2 separate regions of the Homo sapiens genome follow, and region 1 is linked to region 2. Evidence: fine-mapped expression QTL. A gene starts in region 2. The other region holds a variant in brackets. All regions are shown on one strand. Distances are from middle to middle.

Region 1 (8,296 bases), 36 kb before region 2:
GCTAAAAGGCCAAACTTGCCCTGAAACCTGCCACAGAGATGCCCTTGAAGGCCCCTGGGTAGAGCTGGGTAGAGGCCCAGGACAGCTTGATCTCTAAGGAACTGGTCCCTACATCCTGAGGGCCGGTGGGTGGTGGTAAAAGCAGCAGGCTGCAAAGGCTTGGGCTACCCAGGTCCTAGAGATGTGAAACGCCAGTTCTGGATCTTGGGATGGGCCAGCGTAGCCTGCTGGATCTCCTGCGTGGAGGTTGAGGAATGTGAGGAAACACCCAACATTGCTACCTCAGTAGGTAGCAGTGCGTAACCCCCTCCCACAGCATCTCATAAAACCTTTGAAACGCTTTTGACACCTTTCTAGAACATCAGCTCACAATGGTTGTGTTTTGCTCATTGCCATACCAAACACCTAGAGCAGTGCCTAGTAAGAAAATGGGCATTTGATAACTATTGCTGAATTGAATTTATTGAATACATGCAGAGTACAAACGGCCCCAAATCACAGCAGGTTGAAGTATTCACAGAGCCTGAAGGAAAGTGGACAGCAGAGATAGTGGCTCTGGAAATTGGATGAGGTGGGCATCTGGAATGTAGTAAAGCAGCAGCAAGCAGGAGATACTGCTTGGCGACTAGATGAGCTCAGGTAGCCCATCACTGGTACATTGTTTGGGGATGCTGTAGACAAAGGAATGACAGCATTGGAGTATTTATTGAATGCCTATCACAGGCTGAGCCCTTTCCTAGGATTCATATGCTTTTCTCAATGGAAGAATCAAGAAGATAGTTCATTATTTCTCCTTAATACAAGGCCCCATCGTCTTCCCAAGAACCCCACACTCCTACTGCCTCAACTCCCATTTGTTGGAGAAGCTGAAAAAGCTGACCAGGTAGGAAGTTTCTTTCTCTGAATGAAGCTAACTAGGGTTCAGAACAAGCCCTTGACCTATTGTGACCAATGGCAGATCCTGTTCCAATCAGGCCCCACACCTATGAACAAGTCTGTATCTCAGAGCAAGAGACAGATAACAATTCCAGGATTCTCCTGATCTTAGATTAGGACCACAATACAAAGTAGACATTCCTTCTTACTTTCTATGTCAAATTTAGCTAATCACTGGATTCATCAGAAGCCTAGGGGGTTCAGTGTCGAGATAAACATACCTAGGACACCCCATGTTTCTGGGTTATCCTTAGATACGATGAGGTGGAGAGATTCCAGTCACAGAGAGAGGCTGTAAAGAGCAAGCAGGCAGTTGGAGAGAGCTACCAATCCCAGACACTCCAGCAGTTATGGTGACTGCCTGGATGGTCACTCACAGAGGAGGAAAAAGTAGTGAGAGAACTGGAGACAAGGGGGAAATGCAGGTCTTTCTGTACAACAGCAGCTTCCAATCAGAGAAACAGATGATGGGTATCCAGCTATGCAATCCACAAAGGACAAAGTCCCCTGCTTTGGCACAGTCTGATTGTTGGGATGAAACATGCCTAGAGGTAGAGTGAGCCCTTTCTAGGTTAACATAACCAGATATGGGACACCTGCCATTCACTGCAAAGTGCTTCATATAGCTGGCTGCATTCATCTGCTTAATAAAACCAGATAATGAAACAAACCCCCTTTTCCAGTTCCCCAGAGCCCTGCTGTAAAGAAGGTGCCTTTAATTAGAGTCAGACTGCACAGCACTGGGGCTCAGCTGTACTATAGTTTGATGCTGCAAGGCAGAAAAGTTACCGTGTATTTTCTAGGCAAGTAAAATGCAGATGATGTTTAATATCAGATATCTCTCCAAGGAAAGAACATTCTGTAGCTCAGACAAATAATGCAAGTTTGGGTTAATTTTTGGTTTGTCTTTTAAACATAGTACATTCAGGCTTTTGTTTGTGATCAGGGCAATAATGACAGATATAATTACTTAGAGATGAAGAAACCAAAACCAAGACACAAGGAGGCTGAGTAACTTGCCCAAGGCTCACACAGTTACTAACAGCAGGGCCAAGATTCAAACTCCGCTAGTCTGGCTTTTAATGTTGTTGTATTGATTTATTACTCTTTTTAGTCTGTCTTTAAGAGCTCACTTTCCTAGATGTTGTGGAACACTTGAGAGGGATGTGGTACTCTGAAAGGAGGGGCTGCAAATCACTCTATGTCCAGCAGCTGTGGGATGGAATGGTCAGTCTGTGAGGTCAGTCTCTGTACATAGTCTTCAGGCTCAAGTCAAGATGTCTCTTCTTGGCCAGGTGCAATGGCTCATGCCTGTAATCTCAGCACTTTGGGAGGCCAAGGTGGTAGGATTGCTTTAGCCCAGAATTTCAAGACCAGCCTAGGCAACATAGTCTCTATTAAAAAATAATAAAATAATTTTTAAAAAGGTATTTCTTTTTAAAATATCTTCTCTCTAAAGATATATGTACAAGGGTGTTAACTGCAGCATTGTTTTAAGAGTAAAAAGGTTTGAACCAACCTAGATTTCTATCAAAAGTAAGCCAGAAAAGTAAATGATGGTGCAAATACACAATGAAAAAACAGGCAGCTGTAATAAAGAAAGGAAACTATGTACTGACATGGAACTGTTGCCAACATATATCTGAAAAAAGCAAGGTTCAGAATAGCGTACAGTTTACCATTTGTGCAAAGCAAGGAAAAAGACCACATGTGTTTTTGCTTGTATAGACAGAGATCTCTGGAAGAATATACAAGCAACTGTAATACTTGTTGCCTCTGAGTGGGAAGTAGTCGCTGTGGGGAAAGGGTGAGAGGCATTTCATTCTACGCCATTTTGTACCTTTAATTTCAAACTATGTGAACATATTGCCTACTCAAAAAGTGTATGTCTGTACTCTCTTAAAAATGAATTACAATATGTAAACTAAACACAGAACATATAAAAATTGACATATACCCATGCAATCTATAAACAAAACACATGTATGGGGAAACAAGAAGTTATTAAATCAAGGTGGTAACAATCTTTTCCTTTTGTTCTCTATTTTTCCAGAATTCTTATGATGTGGTTATAGTAAGTACTTTTAAAGCATTTTTTCCACATTTAACTTACTTCCTCCATGACTCTACCAGTATTTTGATCAGTAATCATGGGCAGAAGAATGGAAATGAAGACTAAGGACTCCAGAATCCCAAAATTCACAGTATATTCAACAAAGAAAAAATCCCTACCATCCTTAAAAAGTTGGCAATCAATAGTTTCCAACCCTTTATGAAAATACATGGGGTATAGGCTGGGCGTGGTGGCTCACGCCTGTAATCCCAGCATTTTAGAGGCCTAGGCAGGTGGATCACTTAAGGTCAGGAATTTGAGACCAGCCTGGCCAACATGGTGAAACCCTGTCTCTACAGAAAAACAAAAATTAGCTGGGTGTGATGGCATATGCCTGTAGTCCCAGCTACTTGGGAGGTTGAGGTGGGAGGATGGCTTGAGTCTGGGAGGTGGAGGTTGCAGTGAGCTGAGATTGCACTACTGTACTCCAGCTTGGGCAACAGAGTCAGATCTTGTTTCAAAAATTAAAATTAAAATTAAAAATAAAGGAGAGGTGGAGAAAAGAGAGAAAACTTCTAATGTAAAAGAAAAATAAAGAAAAAAGCACATCAAGTTGTCATAAAATCATTGCCTGTGTGTTCATGACGTCAGATAAAATAGATTTGGAAACATTCAAATGCCAGCTGAAGGAAAGGAGTTTCTCCCACCCCTGAAACAAGGTAAACAGTGACCCACCTCTGTAA[T/C]AAAAAGGAAACACGACAGTCAGGAGGTTAACAGAGCTCATCTGTTGCCACGATCTGCAGCTTGGCCTCTTAGGCTGACATTCACTTGAAGTCTATCATCTGATACAGTCACTTTCTTGGTTGTAATCTATGAGCTGCTGGTGTTTACTTGTGAGACTGTCTGGGAGCAGGAAGGGAAGGAAGGTAAATACACCAAAGCCCAGCTGAGCAACTGACAGGTTTTACATTTTATTTCCAGGAAATGAGATAGTATTTTCACAAAGAAGAGGTAAGCCATCCTCTCAAAATAGACACTGCCTTCAGAGGCAGCCATGGGGTACACCCAACCTATCCAAAACAACTGTCAACGGAGGTGTTTCCGAGGTATCAAAACAGTAACAACAACAACAAATTAAAAAAAAACAGAAGAGAACTCAAATAACTCTTTCGACATGTAGTGAGGCAGAGTCTACGAAGTACCCTGAAGCAGTTGGGTGCCGTGAATCCTGGTGGTGCTTCAGCCAATGATGGCAGCAGGGCTGGCCACCGTGGAAGGCAAGTGACTGAGGGCTTCCTAACTCAAGTCTCTGTCCCACAAGACTTCTCAGTTGACCTTCAGAGCAGCGGAGTCACGGCTAGAGAGAATCCTCCAGACCATCTCAGGCTCGCACTACCTGGCAGTCTTTCAAATGCCCTTAGAGCACGGTCTTCAGAACAATCTCTTTGCTTTGGAGAAAAAGAAGAGAAATAAATAAATGAGGAGCCTGTATTTCCCTTCCGTGGACTCCCTGCTTCCAGCCTCGCCACCCTGTCTCTTCCTCACACAGCAGCCATAGCGAACTGAGAAAACAGAAGTCAGATCATGTCACTCTCTGCTCAAAGCCCACTCCTCATTCCTCTCACAGTGAGTTAAAGTCAAAGTCCTTTCAAAGGCCTACAAGGCCCTACAAAATCTGCGTCTTGCTCAAGCTTCCTCTCCTACCCACTCCCCAGCGCTCACTCCACTCCCCAGCACTAGCCTCCTTGCTGCCCCTCCCACATACCAGCATGCTCCCCCTTACCATTCCCTCTTTCCCTACATGGCAGCATGGCCACCTCCTTCAGAGCTTCCCTCAAATAGTTCCTGCTCAGAGGTGCCTTCCTTGATTACCCTATCAAGAATTGCCAAGGCTTTCACCATCACCCCTTCTCCCCTTCTTGCTTGATTTTTCTCCATAGCATTAATTACATCTAACTTAGATTTTCACTTTTTACATTCTCAGCATCTAGAACAGTGCCTAGCACAAATCTGGCCCTCAATATATCTGTTAAAGATGTTAAAGAAAGGAATGAATTATATACAGGAATAGGCAGGGAGAGGCGGGAATTCTTCCTGTGTTCAGAGAGGGAGGGGACAAGAAAGGCTGTTTACTTACTAGCCTCCAGGCTTTTCCAATAGTCCGCTTCCTTGTGGGAATCCTGGCCTATGCCAAAGGCACAATAAAGTCACCAACCAAATTGTCCCCTTTCTCTGAGACTGAATTCTGGAATGCTTTGTTAGGGGGATTGAAAGGACTACAGAAGTTATTCGTCTCCCACTTCTGGGTAGCCTTTGAGGTGGTGGGCCTTGGGGCTGGGCATGCCCTCAGCCTTGGAGAGAGAGAACCAAGTAGGGTTCCCTCCCTCTTAGCTAACAGCCTCAACTATTAGCTCACAGAAGAATACAGAAGCCACAAGAAAGAAATTCTCTGGACACCCCTCAAGCAAACTTCCTTGCCCCACCCCCCCACGATACTCTTCTTTCTATAAAACAAAGAATGCACACTTCTCCTCTTAAAGACTAATTGCTTTCTGAGCTCTGTACTCCCTGTCTTCCCCTGCTTTCCAACGAGTCATGCCCTACCTGCTATCTTGGCTTTCCAGCATGCCCTTCTGTACAGGCTCCTTTCAATCTGCAATGGAACATGCTCAAATCTCGTCTTTAAAAAACAACAAAAACCCCATTTCACCCTACTTCCTCCTCCAAATACAGCCTTCTTTTGGTGGTGGTCCTCCCCATCTTAGTCACAGCCAAATTTTGTGAAGAAGTTATCTATTCTTTCTGTACTTCCTCACCTCATACTCACTCCCCAATCACTGTAAACTGACTTCTGACTCCACCATCCCCCACAACTTATACTAGATAAAGTCACCGATATCCCACATGCCTGCATACTCAATGGGCAATTTTTCATCCTTATCTTGTTTAATGTCTCAGCAGCATTTCAAACGCTGACTTCTCACTTTATAACTCTTCATAAACACATATTTACTGAAGAGCTACCATGTGCCAAACACTCTTCAATGCCCTGAAAATACTACAAGGAGAAAGATAAAATTCCTGCCCTCAAGGAGTTCGGAAATCTAGAGGCAAGAGTACACTAACAAATATTATTTCAATCTGGTAAATGCTTTCAAAGAAATATAGGGCAATGTAATGAGGGGGATCTACCCTAGACAAGAGTGTGGCCAGGAAGGCTCAAAGGACACCATGTAATGTCTTTTTTTTTTTTTAAAGAGATAGGGTCTGGCTCTTTTGCCCAGGCTGGAGTACAGTGGCACAGTCACAGCTTACTGGAGACTTAAACTCCTGGGTTCAAGGGATGCTCCAGCCTCAGCCTCCTGAGTAGGTGGGATCACAGGCATATGCCATCATGCCTAATTTTTTTTTTTTTTGAGATGGGGGTCTCACTATGTTGCCCAGGCTGGTCTTGAACTCCTGGCTTCAAGTGATCCTCTCACCTCAGCCTCCTAAGTAGCTGTGAGGACAGGCATGTGCCAGCTCTGCCTGCCCCACATCCCTGCCCCACATCCCTCTTTTTCCATCTCTCTCTTTGGCCATTCATCAGTCTGCCCTGCAGGCCCCTCTTCTACTACTCATCCCCTAATGTTGGTGTTTCTCATGGCTAAGAACTTGCCCTTTGGCTCTTAATACCACAGAGACGGTAACAGTGGTTCATCCACTTCCATGGCTCATGATCCCCAAACCTAGAATCTCAACTTGGCCTGTCCTTCAGGCTCCAGATCCACACATTCAAATAACCACTGAACAGCTCCATTGATGTCCTCAGGTGCCTTAAACTTTCCAGTTGAAAACTAAATTTGTCTGCTCCAACTACTCCTATTTTAGTAAATGCATCATCATCAACTCAGGTGCCCCAATAGAAAGAAACCTAGACATGATCTGAGCTCCCTTGCAGTCCCCACAGCACATCAGTCCCACAGACCTGTGGATTCTACCTCCTTAACTACCTCTTGAATCTATCCACTCTGGCCATCCCTGCTGCTACTTCTCTAACCTAGCCACCATCATCACTGGCCATGATTACTGCCTTTATTCTTGTTCCCAGCACCATGTCGTCTCTTCACTACAGCCAGACTAACCTATCCAGAAAAACACAAACATCAACAGTCAGATCTCCACTTCATATCTTCTGTTTCCCCCTGCCCCTAGACTAACTCTGCAACATGTCTGTAACACCCTGCATGACCCAGTCCTGCCAACTTTTCCAGGCTGAATGCTCAATATTCTCTCTAGCACTCTGTACTTCTCTCAGCCCCTAAAAACCCCTTGCTTTTGCTTCTTGTCCTTTCACCTAAAATACACTCCATGTCCTTCACTGACTCAGGGAAGCCTTTCCTTGACTTAGCACCCTTTATTTCTCATATTGTAGGACTTTACTATAAGGAACCTAGGGCCTGCACTTAGAGCAAAAGTTCCATGAGGGGAGAGACTGCACATGCCCTCTTTGCTTTTATCCCCAAGCACTTAGCATTTAGTAGGTGCTAAGAAAAAGGAAAGACCCAGGACTGGGCGTGGTGGCGCATGCCTATAACCCCAGCGCTGTGGGAAGCTGAGGTGGGCTGATCCTATGAGCCCAGGAGTTCAAGACCAGCCCAGGCAACATAATGAAACCCCATCTCTACAGAAAATACAAAAAATTAGCCAGGCATGGTGGCGCACGCCTGTAGCCCCAGCTACTAGGGAGGCTGAGATGGGAGGATGCTTGAGCCCAGGAGGCGGAGGTTTGCAGTGAGCTGAGATCATGCCACTGCACTCAGCCTGGGTGACAGAAAAAAAGGAAAGACCCAGAAGAAAGGAAGCAAGTAAGAGATATTTCTTTGGGGTTGGTTCTGGCTCAAGTTTAATGAGACAAGTGTAAAAGCAGTCCAAACTCTCCAGGATACAGAAAGTAACTGAAGTAGAAGCCCTAGCCAGGAAAAGGAGCATGTCTAGTTATATCAGATTTCTTAAGAACCATAGCAGTAGGCAGTTGGACAGAATATATATCCAGCTGATAAGGTATAATCAGCCATTCTCTATGATTAGTTCATAGAATATCAACTTATTTGAGCTTGCTCTAAAAATACTCAGTGTTCATCTAGGGTTAACCAAGAAACTCAAAGAAAAGCTGCTTTGGTTAATGACGCTACTCTATATTTGCACAGGTAGTCTCCTACAATAGACATTCCTGGAAGTAGGTATGAAAAATGATAAAATTACACGTTAGGAGGGAAAGAGGATCCATTTTTTAGAGGGCCAAAATAACTGTGTTATCACTAAAAA
Region 2 (9,188 bases):
ACGCAAGTGTTACTTTCCCAGTTCTAGATATTATCACTGGAGCATATAAATTGCATTAGCTTTCATAGCAGATCTAGTACACTGCCAGTGTATCCTCGAACTTAGGAATGATTAAATTTCTTGGTCTCCCCCTCCTCCAAGAAATGCTATCCTAAGTCCTGTCTCTTCTGCTCTATACTTGACTGGATGGAAAACCTTGGATTCAAGCGCAGGACCTTAGATTGATTCCTATTAAATTTCATCTTGCTAGTTCAGCCTATCAAACCAATTTGTCAAGACCTTTCTGAATTTTTAATCTGCCATCAGATCAGACATACTTAATATCTCTTCCACCAAATTTATGAGATGATGCCTTCTATACCTTCGTTCAAGACACAGAATGGGATGCAGCCAAAGGCAAAGTTTTCAGGAAAACCTAGTAAACATTAACCCACACCATCTGGATATACCTTCAGCCAGTTATAATTCAACCAAAAGTCTTTGCATTGGAGTACATATTCTCTGTCTTATCCACAAGAACAGCTTGAGAGCTTCCGGAAAAGGTTGAAAAGAAGCCCCAGTTCACATCTATCATACTTTCCTGTTGGACCAGTCTAGTTCATAACAACCCTGTGAAGGAAGGAAATGAAATTCTTCTGAGTTCCAGATCACAGAATTCCCTTATTCTTTTTTGTTTGTTAATTTTTTTTTGTTTTTTTGAGAGAGTCTTGCTTTATCACCCAGGCTGGAGTGCAGTGGCACGATCTTAGCTCACTGCAACCTCTGCCTCCCGGGTTCAAGCAATTCTCCTGCCTCAGCTTCCACGTAGCTGGGATTACAGGCACGCACCACCACACCCAACTAATTTTTGTATTTTTAGTAGAGACGGGGTTTCACCATGTTGGTCAGGCTGGTCTCGAACTCCTGATCTCAAGTGATCTGCCTGCCTCAGCCTCCCACAGTGCTGGGATTACAGGTGTGAGCCACCGCGCCCGGCTCCCTGCATATTCTTCTTAGTGCACAAACGACCTCTTTAATGTCCCATATCACAACCTTAACTGGGAACTTTAAACCAAAGTTAGCTAAAACTGCCCTCTTCTCTTCTCTTTAAAATCTTTCAGAATGCCTGTCCTCCTCAGTCCCTCAAAGACCACCACGACTCACTGACCTAATCTATTCCTCCCCACAAACTCTTATCTCAGTATTCACAATACTATCCAACCAACTACTCAACCCATAACCCAGAAGCCATCTTTGATTCATCTCTGTCCCTCATCCCCACATTGAAATCACTGGTAAATTATATGGGCTATAATTCAAATATGTCCTAAGTCTGTTCATTCCTATCTCTGCAGCCACAGCCTTAGTCCAAACCACCTGGCCTCCTACTGTTTCTGTTCTCACTCTAGCCCCCATAAGCTTTATAATAGTAACTGGAATAGAAATGTAAAAATTTTAAATCAGGTCATTTTCCTTCTTTCCTTAAAACTGTCCAATCATTCAAACTTCCTTCCATGGCCTATAAGACCCTGAATGTCCTGAGCCCTTCTACTCTTTAGTCTTAACTCATACCATAGTGCCAACACTAGCTGCTCCAGCCCCTCAAACTTTTTTGTTGTTGTTGTTCCTTAAGCCCATCTCCCCGAAGTGCCAGCCTACCTGAGGGTCTTTTCACTTAGCCCCTCTGCTAAGAACACTCTTCTCTCAGATCTTGCACAGGCTCCTTATCTTTCATGTTCCAGCTACTCATAAGCCTACTCTGATTACCTCTGTCTAAAGTTGGTTGTCTGCTTCCCATCATATTTCTTCAGTTATTAGGAAGTACTTATCACAGACCAAAATTATCTTGTTTATTTTACTTTTCCCCTCTGTCCCCGTAATAGAATATAAATTAGATAAGCAGGGACTTTATCTGTCTTGTTTACCACTGTGTTTCTATACCTGGCATAGTGTTCAGTTAAGTATTTGAGAATGAATGAAAGAATAAAGAGGTCTTGCATATGAGTCCTCAAGATTTTAGGGTGGGTGTTTTTAGGTCAGAAGTTAGAGACTGTATTACCATTGGAAAATATGGAGCAGCAGTTGGAACTCATACAGTCTCACTTGTTTCTCTTTAAAATGTTGTGGTGATCACTCCACCAACACTGAGCACAAAGTTTTTCAGTTCTTTCACACTCTGCCAGAATTATATTAATTATAGAAGTTCCTCTGAATACACATATCTGTTAAAAATGGAATGGCTAGGGATTTATCTGTCGTCCATATTCAGTAAAATTTCTATTTAGGTAGCTTTATCTCTAAGAGAGGAAGCATCTCATATTACATGCTAATACTTGAGGGGAGACAGCCAGACTGCCATTGTGAGTAGCCAGGGGAAAACAGTACCAAAACAGTAGAAGAGTGCCTTTTCCTGACATTGCCTCCAACAGACTCTGAACCCAGAAAAAGGAATCATTCTTTTACATCCTTCCCTGCACTGCCTGGTCTTAGAATTTACCTTGGTACTACTGATATTTCACCTATACTGTAGTTAAAGAGTGCAGTGAGGTTACCTGGAAATCTCAGGACCACTCAACATAACACTGAATTTCCCGTGGGAACTGACTGACGACCCATATGTGAGGGGTTGTTTTCATTTACAATAGTTTTGCAAGCCTTTGAGCTTACACACATTATTGATCTAAAAGATCATCCTGTCTTTGCCCACCTTCACTAAGACTATCTCTTTCCTCCTGGGCACAATTCCTACTGTTTCTCAAATAACAAGTAAATCTGGCCAGGTGTGGTGGCTCACACCTGTAATTCCAGCACTTTGGGAAGCCCAGGCGGGCGGATCACATGAGGCCAGGAGTTCGAGACCAGCCTGGCCAACATGGCGAAACCCCACCTCTATTGAAAACACAAAAAGTAACTGGGCATAGTGGTGCATATCTGTAATCCCAGCTACTTCGGAGGCTGAGACAGAAGAACCACTTGAACCAGGGAGGTGAAGGTGTGATCACACCACTGCACTCCAGCCTGGGTGACAGAAGGAGTACTCTGTCTCAAAACAAAACACCCCACAAAAAAGCCCCCAAACCAGTAAATATAACCATCCTTTCCCTTTTTTCCCTTGGGGCAGAAAACTTAATGAAAACTAAATACAAGAGAAGAAAAGGGGAGAGAAGGTTCTGTTGTTTTCCCCAAAGGCCTAGATACTTTATAGTACCTGAGAACTAGCTAATTTGCAATAAATCTCTACTTGTTTTTCCACCAAACTCTATGCATTGCTTTAACAAGCTTAAAGCCACTTAATTAGACAATTTACTACAGTGTTCCCATCAATGAAATGAAAGGAACCCTGTTTTATTATTTTATCCACAACATCTGAGACTAAGAACTGGAAAGGCAGGGAACTGACCTACCTTTGCTGTTATGTTATTAGCGTATCTTTTAAAATCTTGTGCAAAACAGCTTGTGCTATGATTTGGGGACCATAACAATAAGTACAACTTCTTCTCTTGCCTTTGATTCAGACTTCTTTTCAGGCTATGCTACGACCTGACCTTGCAGGCAGCCAAGCCTGGCAGGCTTCTCCTACACACAGGTCCCTGAAGCCAGCCACAGTCTTACCACTGAGTTTATATGGGTCCCTCCCCATGCAACTGGCCCCATAAAGAACTATCAAATGGTTTAGAATATGTCTAAGACTGCTTTATAGTCTTCTTGCCCTTTCTTCAGGTGCTTTAATTCGTCCTCCCCATCCCACCTGCCCAAGACTGCAGTACTGACAAGCTATTCAGAAGTCATAAATTAATCCACAACAATTGAATCTAAAGGAATAACACTTGCCCACTGAGTTATCTTATGAGGTTGTGTGTATGCAGGGATCAGATTAAGTAATGTATGTGAAATTAACTAATAGTTATGCACAAAAATAATTTATTTTTGTGTGTATTATTCAGGTTATTATTCAGGTGTTCGTGTTTTAATTTGTTAAACTTCCCACAAACATATGCTGTTGGAAAGGGCCAGGCAGGGAAAGATCAGTGCTCAAGCTAAAAGAATGAATGCTTAATGTGGACTTTTAGGCACTAATACCTGGATAGAAGAGGTATTTGGAGGCAGAGATGTTTTCTTGGTGTTCCTCAAACCACAGCATACAAGTAACCCTTTATAACACTCCCTAATCTAGCAATTAAATTTGTGCCTAGACATGAATTCCTCCTCTGACTTGAAGAACTACTGCTCTGGGAAGGAACTAAATAATCCAAATCTTAGCACTTGATCATACAGCCCATATGGATGTTCTTTATACGATGACTGCTTCATTGTATAAATCCTCTCTCCCCACTCAAGCCTTAAACTCTTCGAGCGCAGAAATTTTATTTGTCCTCATTGTACACCAAACAATGTTAAATACTCAGTAAATACCTGGCAGACTGAATTGAGGCAGTACGGCTTATAGGAAAAATCTACCTGAACACACATGAGACTCAAAATACTTCTTGAATTTACATCATGACCAACCATCCACTTTTACTGCAAAGAGAACTTTTCATACAGATTATTTCCAAAACCCAAATGGTTCCCAGTCATCACAAGCTTGTCCCTGACCCAGTTCTCCTTCTCAACCTGATTGCAATCTAACTCCCTCCTCCCTTCCCTCGTCTTTTCAAGATGCACCACGCTGGTGCATCTTGAACCGTGCCAGGAACGGTACCTCATCTTTCCCCTTAAAATATTTTTCATTTGCAACTGCATTAATAAAGACGACAGGCAGCCTCTGGAGAGAACTCTGAATACCTGCCCGACCCACCTCAGGGAGTGCCACTCGGCCGTACCGAGCCTCACAGGAGAAATGTGGCCCAGCCCAAGCCGCCCATGTTCCTCAGAGTTGGGAAGGAGGAAGACATTTCTACGTGAAAGTTTGATTGCTTTAAGGGACAAAACCCAAAATTTGCAATCGTTTTCAAAACAAACTCGAGAAAGTTCAGGCGCCGGGCCCTGCCTCGGCTTCCCGGCAGCTCGCGGCCCCCGCCACCGTTCCCCGACCTGGCACCGCGGGGCTCTGTGCGCCCTAAACGGGATCTGGCCAGCCCCCGCCCTCCCCTCCTCGACACCCCCGCATCTCCTCACGTTCCCTGCGCGTCCCTCTCCTCCCAGTCCCCGGCCCAGCTACCCGCTGACCCAGGCCTCTCTGGACGGGGCCCGCTTCTCGCCCCACAGGCCGCGGGTCAGGGCCTCCGTCCTCGCCCCAACCCTTGTGGCCCCCCCGGGCTCCCCAGAGCCGAACTCTCTTTTCTTCCTTTCTCCCACTCGGCCCCTATTTCTCCCCCAAACACCTCCCACCGCAGACCCTTCAGCCGCTCGCGCCAGAACCGCTTTCTCCCTTCTCTCCCCAGGAATCCACCCCCCCCACAGACACTTCGCTCCTCTTCCTGATGCCCGCCTCCTCTCTGCCATTCATTCAGCCCAGCAAGACACCTTCCTCCCTCCCCGGAGCCCCGCTCCCTCCAGCCCCTGCCCTCCGCTCCACAGGACCCCTTCCCCCGTACCTCGCACCCATCTTCCAGCAGCAGCCACCCGGCGCTCATCCCCACCCGCCGCAGGCACCAGCTCCGGCCACCGGCGCGGTCTCCTGTGACGAAGAAGCCGGGCTCCCCCATCGCCTACTCGACCCCGGGGGCGGTCAGCACCGAGCGAGACCCTGACCTAGGTTCTGGCTGCCTCTGTGCATCCCCTCAGCTTCCATATCTAAATAACAGACAGAAGCAATCGCCACACGCTCGCGATCGCTGCGAAAGCAGGCTCCGCTCGCCCGCCCTCGGCCAGGAAGCAGGAGCACTACGCCTGCGCAAGAGGACGGCGGCCGCCCTGGAGCAAAGAGGGTGGGTTGGGAGCCAATCCGGCCCTGGGCGGGGCGGGCGCGATTCGAGAGGTCTCCTCGCCTCACACCTTCCCTCGCCGCCTCCAGAACCATCACCCCAGTCCTAGCCGCCCCAGACTGGAACCTCTTCTCACCTTTCCTCTTTTTAAAAAAGTCATGTGAAACTATAGCCCACTTTTAAACAACTTTAAACTTTCCATCGGATTTAAGTCTGCCTAGTCTGTTGCTAAATAGTCTCTATTTTGCACGACCTACTTATATTACCGAAGTAAAAAATAAATTACACTAGGCAAATCTACAAAGACAAAGAGCACAGTTACCTGGGGCGAGGTGTGGGAGCGGGTATTGAATGCAGATGGGCTTGAAAAAATTGGAGGAAAGCGGTAATAGAAATGTTCTAAAAGTGGATTGTGGTGACAATTGTACAACTGTATAAGTTTATTAAAAAGTCATGGAAGTGTGGCCGGACGCAGTGGCTCACGCCTGTAATCCCAGCACTTTGGGAGGTCGAGACGCGCGGATCACTTGAGTTCAGGAGTTGTGACCAACCTGGCCACATGGGGAGACACCGTATCTACAAAAAAAAAAAAAAAAAAAGGAGGAAGGGAGGGAGAGAAAGGAAAAAAGAAAAAAAAGAAAAATTAGCTAGGTGTGGTGGTGCACACCTGTAGTCCGGCTACTTGGGAGGCTGAGGTGGGAGGATCACCTGACCCCGGGAGGCAGAGGTTGCAGTGAGCCGACATGGCGCCACTGCATCCCAGCCTGGGCGACAGAGTGAGACCCTGTAAAGTGAAGAAAGTGTAAACTTCCAGTGGGTGAATTTTATGGCATGTAAATTATACTCAATAAAGCTGTTAATTTTATTATTATTATTACTGATTACAGACAGGGTCTCGCCCTGTCACCCAGGCTGGAGTGCAGCCTGGAGTGGTGCGATCTCAGCTCACTGCAACCTCCGCCTCCCGGGTTCAAGAGATTCTCCTGCCTCAGCCTCCAGAGTAGCTGGGATTACAGGCACGCGCCACCACGCCCGGCTAATTTTTATATTTTTTGGTAGATACCGGGTTTCGCCGTGTCTCCTGGATTCAAGTGATCCAACCGCCTCAGCCTCCCAAAGTGCTGAGATTACAAGCATGAGCCCCCGAGCCCGGCCAATTAAAAAATTGTTTTTAAACTCAGCCTCTCCTTTGGATTTTCCATATAGTGTGATAGCTGCTGCCTGCAGTGAGTACATCCAATGGTTGAGCCCCTTTTGTCTTTTCAGTTTTCCAACACCCAGTTAACAATTTCTTTCTTCTTTCTTTCCTTCCTTCCTTCTCTTTCTTTCTTTTCTTTTTTCTTTCTCTTTTCTTCTTTCTCTCTCTTTCTTTCTCTCCTTCCTTCCTTCCTTCCTCCCTTCTTCCTCTCTTTTTTTTTTTTTTTTGCACAAGGGGAAAGAAGGAAAACAATTTTCCTAAATAAAATTCTGTCAAAAAACCAGCCGGGCTGGGCATGGTGGCTCATGCCTGTAATCTCAGCACTTTTGAGAGGCCGAGGCAGGCGGATCACCTAAGGTTGGGAGTTCAAGACCAGCCTGACCAACATGGAGAAACACCGTCTCTACTAAAAATACAAAGTTAGCCCAGCGTGGTGGCGTGTGCCTGTAATCCCAGCCACTCAGGAGGCTGAGCCAGGAGACTCGCTTGAACCCAGGAGGCAGAGGTGGCGGTGAGCCGAGATCTCGCCATTGCACTCCAGCCTGGACAACAAGAGTGAAACTCCATCAAAACAACAACAACAAAAAAAACAAAAACAAAAACAAAAAACACACACACAGCCAAGTGTGGCGGCTCACGCCTGTAATCCCAGCACTTTGGGAGGCCGAGGCAGGTGGATCACCTGAGGTCAGGGGTTCCAGACCAGCCTGGCCAACATGGTGAAACCCTGTCTCTAGTAAAAATACAAAAATGATCTGGGCATGGTGGTGAGCACCTGTAATCCCAGCTACCAGGGAGGCTGAGGTGGGAGGATCCCTTGAGCCTGGGAGGCAGAAGTTGCAGTGAGCTGAGATCACACCACTGTACTCTAGCCTGGGTGACTGAGCAACACTCTGTCTCAAAAACAAATACACAAACAAAACAACAAGAAAAGAAAATACATACACTAAATGAATTACACAGTGTACAATAGTAAATAGCTAACATTTACTGAGTGCTAAGTGCCAGGTACTAGGCGAAGCACCCTACATACTTTATTTGTCCTTTGCAAACAGAAAGAAAAAAGAAAAATTAGCCAGTTATTAGTGGTTACAATTATAATCCCTATGTTAGAGATGATGAGAAAAGAGGCACAGAGAGGTTTTGGTAATCTTCCCAAAGTAACAAATGAAATGGCAGAGTAGGATGTCAATTCAAGTCTGTTTCAAAAGCCTAGTTTCCTAACCATGGGTGCAATCCCAACCTGGAACATTTTATCTGTGTTGTGCAGTCAGATCAAGAAATGCAGGCCCTGACATCACAGAGGGCCAGGAACTTTGGTGAAAGTCATAGCTGCACTCATGGAGATGCTTCCCTAAGCTGTGCATAGGTATCTGTTGGTGCCCCCACCCCACCTTAGCATTCTACCCCAGGAACAGCAAGCACACCTAGAAGCCACCCTGACATTTAGTCTGTGTGTCTCCTTAGGCTCCTCTTGGCTGTGATAGATTCTCAGACTTTCCTTGTTTTTGATGACCTCGACAATTTGAGGAGTACCAGACAGATATTTTGTAGAATGTCCCTCAACTGGGATTTGTCTGATGTTTTTCTCATGATTAGACTGGGGTTATGGATTTGGGGATGGAAGACCACATAGGTAAAGTGTCATTCTCATGGCATCATATCCAGGGTACGTGTTATCAACATGAACTATCATTGTTGGTGTTCATCTCGATCACCTGGCATTTCTTATTTCTTGATATGACAGTACCACACAGATAAAACGTTCCAGGTTGGGATTGCAACCATGGTTAGGAAATTAGGCTTTGGAAATCTAGGTAGTGTTTGTCAGGTTTCTCCACTGTAAACTTACTTTTTTTTTTGAGACAGAGTTTCACTCTTGTTGCCCAGGCTGGAGTGCAATGGCTCAATCTCGACACACTGCAACCTCCGCCTCCTGGGTTCAAGCGATTCTCCTGCCTCAACCTCCCGAGTAGCTGGGATTACAGGCATGAGCCACCACGCCCGGCTTATTTTGTATTTTTAGTAGAGACGGGGTTTCACCATGTTGGCCAGGCTGGTCTTGAACTCCTGACCTCAGATGATCTGCCCACCTTGGCCTCCCAAAGTGCTGGGATTACAGGCGTGAACCACTGTGCCAGGCC

What was found.
Region 1: its variant is fine-mapped to the expression of RNF8 in sun-exposed skin (GTEx, PIP above 0.99).

Annotation. Positions count from the first base shown.
Region 1 is chr6:37,386,883-37,395,178 of GRCh38, reverse strand. It overlaps RNF8 (ring finger protein 8), which reads right to left. Exons shown (of 8, transcript NM_003958.4): 8 at 445-4,437. The coding sequence ends at 4,421. Among named protein-coding and RNA genes, the nearest start is that of RNF8, 37 kb to the right of the region's middle. The variant T/C (reference allele first, on the strand shown) is at 3,733.
Region 2 is chr6:37,350,604-37,359,791 of GRCh38, reverse strand. RNF8 (ring finger protein 8) reads right to left here and starts at 5,809. Exons shown (of 8, transcript NM_003958.4): 1 at 5,517-5,809. The coding sequence starts at 5,627. RefSeq lists an enhancer at 5,507-5,556 and a silencer at 5,857-5,956.